Linked DNA regions of Homo sapiens: regions 2 and 3 are each linked to region 1. Evidence: fine-mapped expression QTL. Tissue or cell type: atrial appendage. Region 1 holds a variant in brackets; each other region holds the start of a gene. All regions are shown on one strand. Distances are between the middles of the regions.

Evidence for each region. PIP is the estimated chance that this variant, and not a neighbour inherited with it, causes the effect.
Region 2: DIRAS3 starts here. The variant in region 1 is fine-mapped to the expression of DIRAS3 in atrial appendage (GTEx, PIP above 0.99).
Region 3: it holds the start of GNG12, and the variant in region 1 is fine-mapped to the expression of GNG12 in atrial appendage (GTEx, PIP above 0.99).

Annotation. Positions count from the first base shown.
Region 1 is chr1:67,950,887-67,953,568 of GRCh38, forward strand. The region is part of intron 1 of GNG12-AS1 (GNG12, DIRAS3 and WLS antisense RNA 1); the gene reads left to right. Among named protein-coding and RNA genes, the nearest start is that of DIRAS3, 98 kb to the right of the region's middle. The variant C/G (reference allele first, on the strand shown) is at 1,374.
Region 2 is chr1:68,049,606-68,052,287 of GRCh38, forward strand. DIRAS3 (DIRAS family GTPase 3) reads right to left here and starts at 1,022. Exons shown (of 2, transcript NM_004675.5): 1 at 943-1,022. The region is part of intron 2 of GNG12-AS1 (GNG12, DIRAS3 and WLS antisense RNA 1); the gene reads left to right. It also overlaps the pseudogene ARL5AP3.
Region 3 is chr1:67,832,126-67,834,807 of GRCh38, forward strand. GNG12 (G protein subunit gamma 12) reads right to left here and starts at 1,342. Exons shown (of 4, transcript NM_018841.6): 1 at 1,219-1,342. It overlaps GNG12-AS1 (GNG12, DIRAS3 and WLS antisense RNA 1), which reads left to right and starts at 163. Exons shown (of 10, transcript NR_040077.1): 1 at 163-311.

The sequences.
Region 1 (2,682 bases):
TCTATATCTTGGTTTTCTCATTTGCCAAGTGAGGACAATAATAATATCTGTCCTCCCAATATCATGTATCATTACATATGTAACATTAATATAACATATAATGTTACAAAGTAGCATAAATGAATAACATTTAAAAAGTTAAACCTCCAAGGTGTTTAAAAGCAGCATACGGGTATTTCTTGCCACTGCAAGAAAAAATCTGCCACTTTTCTCCAGGGTGGCTGAATAAATAGGGCAGCTTTTCCAGAGAGGCAGCCATAGTAGACATTCCATTATGCTACTGCATATTCAACTAGAGTATAAAATGTGAGCCCTCAGCCTGGAGGTGTTAATGAGTTGCCACTTAGAAGGACCAGGGAAGCAAATTAAGTGCATATGCATAAAGCAGTCAGAACTGCCAGCCCTCCATGCTGTCTGGAAACTGAGCTGCTCAGGCCCTCATCCTCTGTTCATCTCATCCCCTGATTTAGCAGCTGTAGTTGGTGGACCAGGTTCATGTGAATAAGACCATTGGCTTTTCTGCCTCCACTTCCCAGAACCATCTCACTCCAGACCCTGTCTAAACTAGTGAAGTTGAACACATCCAGTACTTGGGCTCATCATCAGAGAGATGGAGGTGGGTTGGTCACCAAGAGGTAGGATGCCCACTTCATTGTTGCTGAAAAACATGCTTTAAAAGCTTCCTAAGATTAATGATAGTTACTTTTCTCTTTTAAGTTATTTTTTCCTATATGGTTTCTGTTTTCTACAAATTCCCTGTTTCACTGTTGATTAGTTTTGGTCTGCATCATTTAGGTAGAGTCTTTCTTCAAGTATCTGCCAATCTTGGGCTGTCAGCATGTATTTAAGAGAAGGATATTAAAAAGCCAACCAGAGACTTGAAAGAGCATGAGTGGGGCTGGGGGCTTCATGGCAGAAGGGTCACAATCAGCAACATCAGTATCTCTGTGTCTTTTCTCTTTGACTGGTTAGGTTACTCAAAGAAGGCTGTTCTTTGAGTCTCCCATCCCCAGCTCCATATCTAGCCTGGAGACTGCCAGCCTTCTGAGGACCTGGTGGAGAAGGGAATAAGGAGTCCTTAGAATTCAATATGTAGATTTTCATCAAACCTTACTGTTTCCAGTACATTATCCCTGCCCTACACCCAGAATGGGGGCTAGATGGCCACCAATCCAGAGTCCATTTGGTTCACTGTCTCCAGAGAGTCAGTTTCTGTATTCTGTTTCAAGGAAAGGGGCACTTGTCAGCTTTGAGAAGCAATAGAGGTTATCCAGGAGTCTAAGTGCACTGTAAATAGATTTCCAACCGATCTTGTGGTTTTCAGCCCCCACTTCTGTCCCATCTCCTCACACTTTCACAGATCCCTGATGCTG[C/G]CAATTATGGAGTCCTGGATCTCTAAGGTCCCTATCAGCTTGCTTTTGGCCTCCCTCACTGCTGGCTGAGGATTCAATGTTCTGAGGTTGCTGAGTCAGTTGCCCTTTATCCTTTTGTCTTCCAGCTTCAAAGATTTTTTTTTTTTTGCTTTTTTTTCCCTCTCATGTTCTCAAAGGTTTATACCTTTAAAAGAAAATCCCTTTCAAAATATTTTTAATGGGACTGAAGGATCAGAAGAAAGACACATGTGTTCAATCTACCATCATTAACCAAAAGAGAGAAAATACCAACACAAAAAAAAGACATAGAGCACATGTGACGTGTGTATCTTGGCAAGATGCTGCTGCCAGGGATTCAGAGCCAAAAGGAGAGCCCAGGTTTCTTATATCACCTGTTTTCCTTAATGCAATCCCACAAAGTAGTACTATTTTCCATATTTATTAAGAAGGAACAAGTAATAATAAGAATTAGTATTATTGACTCTCTAGTATGACCAGCTGTATGTCTTTTAGGGCTTCCCTACAAAATACCACTGACTGAGTGGGCCTTAACAACAGAAATTTATTTTCTCACAGTTTTGGAGGTTCAAAGTCCAAGATCAAGGTGTTGACAAGCTTGGTTTCTCTTGAGGCCTCTCTCTTTGGCTTGCAGACGGCCATCTTCTACTGTGTCTTCATATGATCTTTTCTTGGTGCACAAGTATTTCTGGTGGTTCTCCTTCTGATAAGGACAGCAGTCATACTGGATTGGGGTCTCACCCATGTGATCTAATTTAACCTTAATTACTCCCTTAAAGACCTTAACTCCAAGTACAGTCAAATTCTGAGGTATAGGGGGTTAAAGACTCTAACATATGAATTTTGGGCAACACACAATTCAGTCCAGAACTAATCTGGTCATTTTATTTCCATTTCTTCATTTATTTCTCACAATCAGCCGAGGGTTAAGTATTATTATTATTATTATTGTTATTATTATATATGAGGAAACTTCTGTTTAGAGAACTTAACTAACTCTTAGACTGCACAGCTAGAAAGAGATTATGTATTTTGTTTTCTATTGCTGCTGCAACAAATTATCACAGTCTTAGTGGCTTAAAATTACACAAGTGTATTATCTTACAGTTATGTAGTTCAGAAGTCTGAAATGGGTCTTACTGGGCTAAAGTCAAGGGGCCAGAAGGCCGCATTCCTCTCTGAAGGCCCTCAGGAACAATCTGTCTCCTTGCCCTTTCCAGCTTCTAGAGATTGCTCGTGTTTCTTGACTCAAGGTTCCTTCCTCCATCTTCAAAGCCAATGCCAGCAGGTC
Region 2 (2,682 bases), 99 kb after region 1:
AAGAGTTCCAGTAAAGACCAAATATCTCTTGGCCACCAACATCCCACATTAGGAAATGTGCATTACTAATTATTCTGTTTTACATTACTTCCTGCTCTAGGGGATGTATGTACAAATTCATTCATAGAAAATTGGTAAAGCAGCCGGGCGCATTGGCTCATGCCTGTAATTCCAGCACTTTGGGAAGTCAAGGTGGGAGGATCGCTTAAGCACAGGAGTTCAAGACTAGCCTGGGTAACATAGGGAGACCGCCGTCTCTATCAAAAAGAAAATAAAAGAAAAAAAATTGGTAAAGGACACACGTGATAACTGAAGTTTCCAGATGTGAAGAGAATTCTCATTCTCAGGCAGTGGACCCCCCCCCCCACTCCCCTCCACACTCCTTCCACCTTCCCAGGCCACCTGGCCTCAGGCTGAGGGGGAGGTGAAAGTTTCCAGGAACCAGAGGGCGTCCAAACCCAGCGGCCGTGCGGAGCTCAAGGTCCCGCCGCTGCTGTTGCGGCACCAGCCTGGCTCATGGACATCACCACGCACCTGCAAGGTCAGGTTTCTCTCTGGTGGCTGTGGCGGCTGCTACCCTCCTCGCCCATTTCAATCTTACTTTCACACTACATGACTCCACTATTACTTCCTGAACACTAGCTACCTACGCAGCTGTAATAGTGGACACTGTGTCAACCTTTAAGCTCGCACACTTATCAAACCTCGTTCTTCTATATTAAAAAGTGCTAGCTTCCCAACGGGACTATCCAAAGTGCAGTTGCAGGACCTGCCAGGAGCCCGCAGGGCTGCGGGTGGTTCTTGCGTAATCGCGCCAAGAAAGACCTGGTTCCAGTTTCAGGGACAACTCGCCCATAAACTTCTACTGCGCAACAGCATCTGCTGCTTTGTCTGACACTTGTTGTTTTCAAGTACCCCTAAAAAAGCGAAAGAAAGACTTACCTTTCTCGGAGGCACGAACCAAGCAGCCTAGAAGACAAATGCGCTGCTCGGAGAGACTGCCGCGGCAACCAACTGGACACCCCAAGAGCTCACTCCTCCGCGGTTTTATATTCCGACTTGCGCACAGGAGCGGGGTGCGGGGGCGCAGGGAGTGTGGGTAACAGGCATAGATTCCGCTTGCGCAATACGTGGTAAGAAACCAGCTGTGAGGGGCTGGCCCAACGCAGAGCGGCGCGAGGTCCGCTTGGCATCTACAACAATCGAGGGGCTAGTCCAGAAGTTCAAGGCGGGGTTACAGGTTGGGGAGGAACTGTTAAACTGTGGACTTTTTCTCACCTGTTGGAATAAGCTTCAGGCAAAACTTTGCCAACAAAAACCGGTCCAACTGATTTTAGACGAAAGTCCAAAAGCAGTTTAATGCAGGACAGATAATCTTTTCCACAAATGATACTGAAAAGACAGGACATCTATAGATTCCCCCCCGCCAAAAATAACCCTTACATAAAAATTAAGTGGCTAGATATAACTGTGACGAGTAAAATTACAAAACGGTTTTAAAAAACAACAAACTATTGTCTAAGGCTAGGCAAAAGGTTCTTAAATTGACATTAGTGGCAAGACCGGTAAAAAGAAATGTTGATGAATTAGACTCCATAAATTTAAAACTTTTGCTTTGTGAAAGACCCTGTAACGATACTGAAAAGGTTTACCTAGGAGAAAATATTTACAAGCCATATATCTGGCATACAACCAGTATCTAGAATATGTAAATAACTCAAAAATCAATTATTTTTAAAAATCCAATTAGAAAATAGTCAGAAGACATAAACAGACACTTCACTGAAGATATGCAGATGGCAAATAACCATATGAAAACCTTTAATGTCATTAGCCATTAGAGAAATGGGAATACGAGGCTTTCGTTGTTCTTCGCCTCCCACTAGGGCGGGTTGAGGGTCTGGCTCCAGTAGCCCCGGGTGCCTCTCACTCCTTGGGCGCAATGCTACTATCCTGGCAGAACCCTCGCCGAACCCTCGCAGGACGCCCCATCGGGTCCGCCAGCGGCTAGGAAGCCCGATTGTGTCGTTCCTTTTTCCCTCTGCGCCTCCCACCGCCAGTCCCTTTTCCAAATGCGCCTGCGTCTGCCCTCCACATCTCCGAGCTCCGTCTGGCTTCTTTCTCCCTTGCCTGTGAGCGCCTGGCGGCGGATGCATTGAAAGCTGCGCACCACCGCCTACCGAGCGTTTTGGGGAGTGTGTGGAAGTTGTTGGCAGCAGGTTTTGACAGCAGTACCCTATGGGCCTAGTCGTTGACGGTAGCACCTGGTTTTGTGTGCCCCAGCCAGCTGAGGCCAGGGTGTGTGGTGTGGGCCACTGGTACTGCTCTTCTGCCACTATAATCCCTCCCCCTACCAGGTACCTGGTGCGTAGAAGTCTAAAGACCTGTGAGGTCTAGCCTGGCGCCTGTAATCCTAGAGAATAAGGAGGTTGAGGCCAGGAGTTAGAGACCAGCCTGGGCAACATGGGGAGAACTTGTCTCTACTTTAAAAAAATTTAGCCCAGTGTGGTGGTGGCCGCCTGTAGTCCCAGCTATTTGGGAGGCTGATGTGGGAGGATCACTTGAGCCTCCCACATCAAGGAGATCGAGGCTGCAGTGAGCCGTGATCACAGCCACTGTACTCCAATCTGAGCAACAAAGTGAGAACCTGTCTCAAAACAAATTCCAACCTGATTCTGGTAT
Region 3 (2,682 bases), 120 kb before region 1:
GGGGGGAGAGGAAGTAACTGATGGGAAGGAAGCTAATCATGTGAAGTTTGTCCAACTCCACACGGTCTAATAAATTCCCGTTTGTTTCCGCTGGGAGCAGCCATTAAACGCGCCCTGACACGTGGGCGCAGGAACCTCCCTTCTACCTCTGGTGTTCAGAGATTTCCTTCTCGACCCACTTGTTTGTATACAACCACGCCCGGCAGGATGACCACCAGATGACCGGCCGCAGCAATGCCTCCACTCAGTCCCAGTTGGGCAAAGTTTCACTCCACTGCGGCGACGTGAACAAGAATCACGGCTTCCTTATCGTGAGTTATGAATGATTTAAGCCAAGTTTACAGGACACACAAAGCGAGGGACGAGTGAGTGACGGGAGGTGCTAAGTGACAGCGTTTTAAAGTTAGCTTTAATTGATATGCCCTAATTAAAATGAAAAACAGAATTCACCCTGCCCCACGGGATAACTGTCGGGGCAATAATTAAAAAAAAAAAAATCACCCAAGACTAAGCCTCAACCTCCCCCTTACCACTTGCAAATACAGTCTGCAGAAAAGCAGCCTCGGGTCCCCACTCGGGGGTCCCTCGCGGGGTGCGTCATATGGGCTCTCCCCTCTGCGACCCGCTATTTCCCTGCTAGACCCCCAGCGCCCAGCGGATTCCAAGGCTGCGCTCCCGCCGGCTGGTCCCGGGAGGTAGAAAGTAGGCAGAGGGGCGTGGCGTCCCTGTCGCCCCCACATGCCAGCCCTCCTCCAACGCCTGACACCACCACAAGCCACGGCTGGGAACACTGGGGGCCTCCCAACCCGGCGCGGGGCGCACGGCCGCAGGCTGGCGAGGAGGCAAGCGAGCTCAAGGGGAGACCTTTCCTTCCACCCCCAGCCCTAGCCCCAGCCACAGCCGTGGGGGCGGCTTCCCGCAACCTCGGGCGGCCGCCCGTCGAGGGCGCGCGCGCCGTTTCTGCCTCTGGGTCTCGGTGTCCCTTGGCCCCTTCCTCCCCCTCCCCCCGGTCTCCGGCGCCCAGCGCCCAGACCAGTCCCCGCCCTCCAGCAGGACACTCTTCCCTCCTTCCTTCCTTCCTCCGCTCCCTCCCTCCATCTCGCTTCCCAGCACCCGGGACTCGGAGGCGGCCCCCGAACTCGCTGGCCGACGCCCCGCGCCGCGCCCCGACCCCGCGGGGACCCGACTCACCACCCGCGCCCGCCGCTTGGTACTCACCCGCCTGCCGGTGCGCTGCCCCGCCGTCGCCGCCGGGACTCGGTCTCTAAGGGCTCCTGGAGACGGCTCCGACCTCTCCTCCTCCTCCTCCTCTTGCTCCTCCGGGCGCCGGCTCCGCCTCGCTGGGGTGGGCGGGGCGGCGGCGGCCCCGGGCTCCTTCCTCCGCGCCGGGCCCTGCCTCCCGCCCGGACGCCCTGGCTGTGCTGTCCCGGGCCGGGGAGCCCGCGTTGTGGCCCCGCAGGAGGAGGGGCGAGGCCTGGCCTGTGGAAGCTCGGTGGACGTCTGGTCGTCTTTGGCCATCCCCCTTCCTCTAATTCTCATGGAGGACCTGAAGTTCTAGGACTTGAGGGCCCCCACTCTACGACCCGCCCCCGCGCGGGGCCGCCCTGACTCCTCGCAAGTTTCCTTCGCGTGCGAACGCCTCGCTTGCCCCTGTGCCAGCGGTCCCCAGGGCTGTGAGGATGAGCGCTGCCAAACCCCTACACGAAAGTTTGGTTCTGTTCCAGAAACTATGGAGGAAAACACGCATAGTAACATTTAAAGGGCCCTGGGGCCACGGAGAGAAGTTTCCCAGAAAGTGGAGGTATAACTGCGGATTATAGAATTTGTAGTACATCCACCCACCATGAGCTTCCCGTCCATCTGCCCCGACCCCCTGAAATTTGTTTCCGAATGTCCAGTACCTGGCAGAGTTCTGCCTAATGAATTAATGGGATTTGGTTGGTCTTTTCTGGAAGGGTTCAAGGTCGGGTAAATGGAGGAGCCATTTCCGCTTCCACAGATTTTGTACTATTCCTTTGGCCATTCGACAGACATTACCAAGCACCCGCTGTGTACCAACTGCGATGCTAAAGGTGATGGGAGAGGTACAAAGATGAATCAGACAAGGGGCTTGCCTTCTTGGAGTCCAGAAAGAGTAAAGAAGCTGGATGTTCAGAAAACCACTCAGCGGACTTCTAGAGTATTCCTAGGTAGCCGCTTTCTTGTTTGACAGGGTGGAGAGAAAAGAGGTGAGGCCAAAGTAGGTCACTTAGAACCAGTGTGGGCAGAGTCCACACTTGAAATGGAGTCTGAAAGCATTGGTGAGGGATGTCTGTGTATTGAGTTTCACCAACTGAGGACAAGTGGGCCCTGGGGAATCTGGGAACTAGGGACTGCAGTCAGGGCATTATATTCCCTCTTGCTTTCCTTCTGACCCCTAAGCAAGTTTCAGGTTTAGTGAAATCATTTGCACATGTAGAAGAGGTGTCACAGGTAGAGTAGGTGTATGAATGCATGCCTTGCCCCAGGAGTGTGGTCTTAGCAAGCTGCGGATGGCGGTGGTTTGTGGGATGCAAGCCACAGACTGCCAGAGGGGTCTTTATTTCCTGTTCTGTTCAGCATTAGGAAATGCTTGACTGATTCACAAGTACTAACAGTTCAAATGATACACCTGAAACAGAACAGCTTGACACCACAGGGACT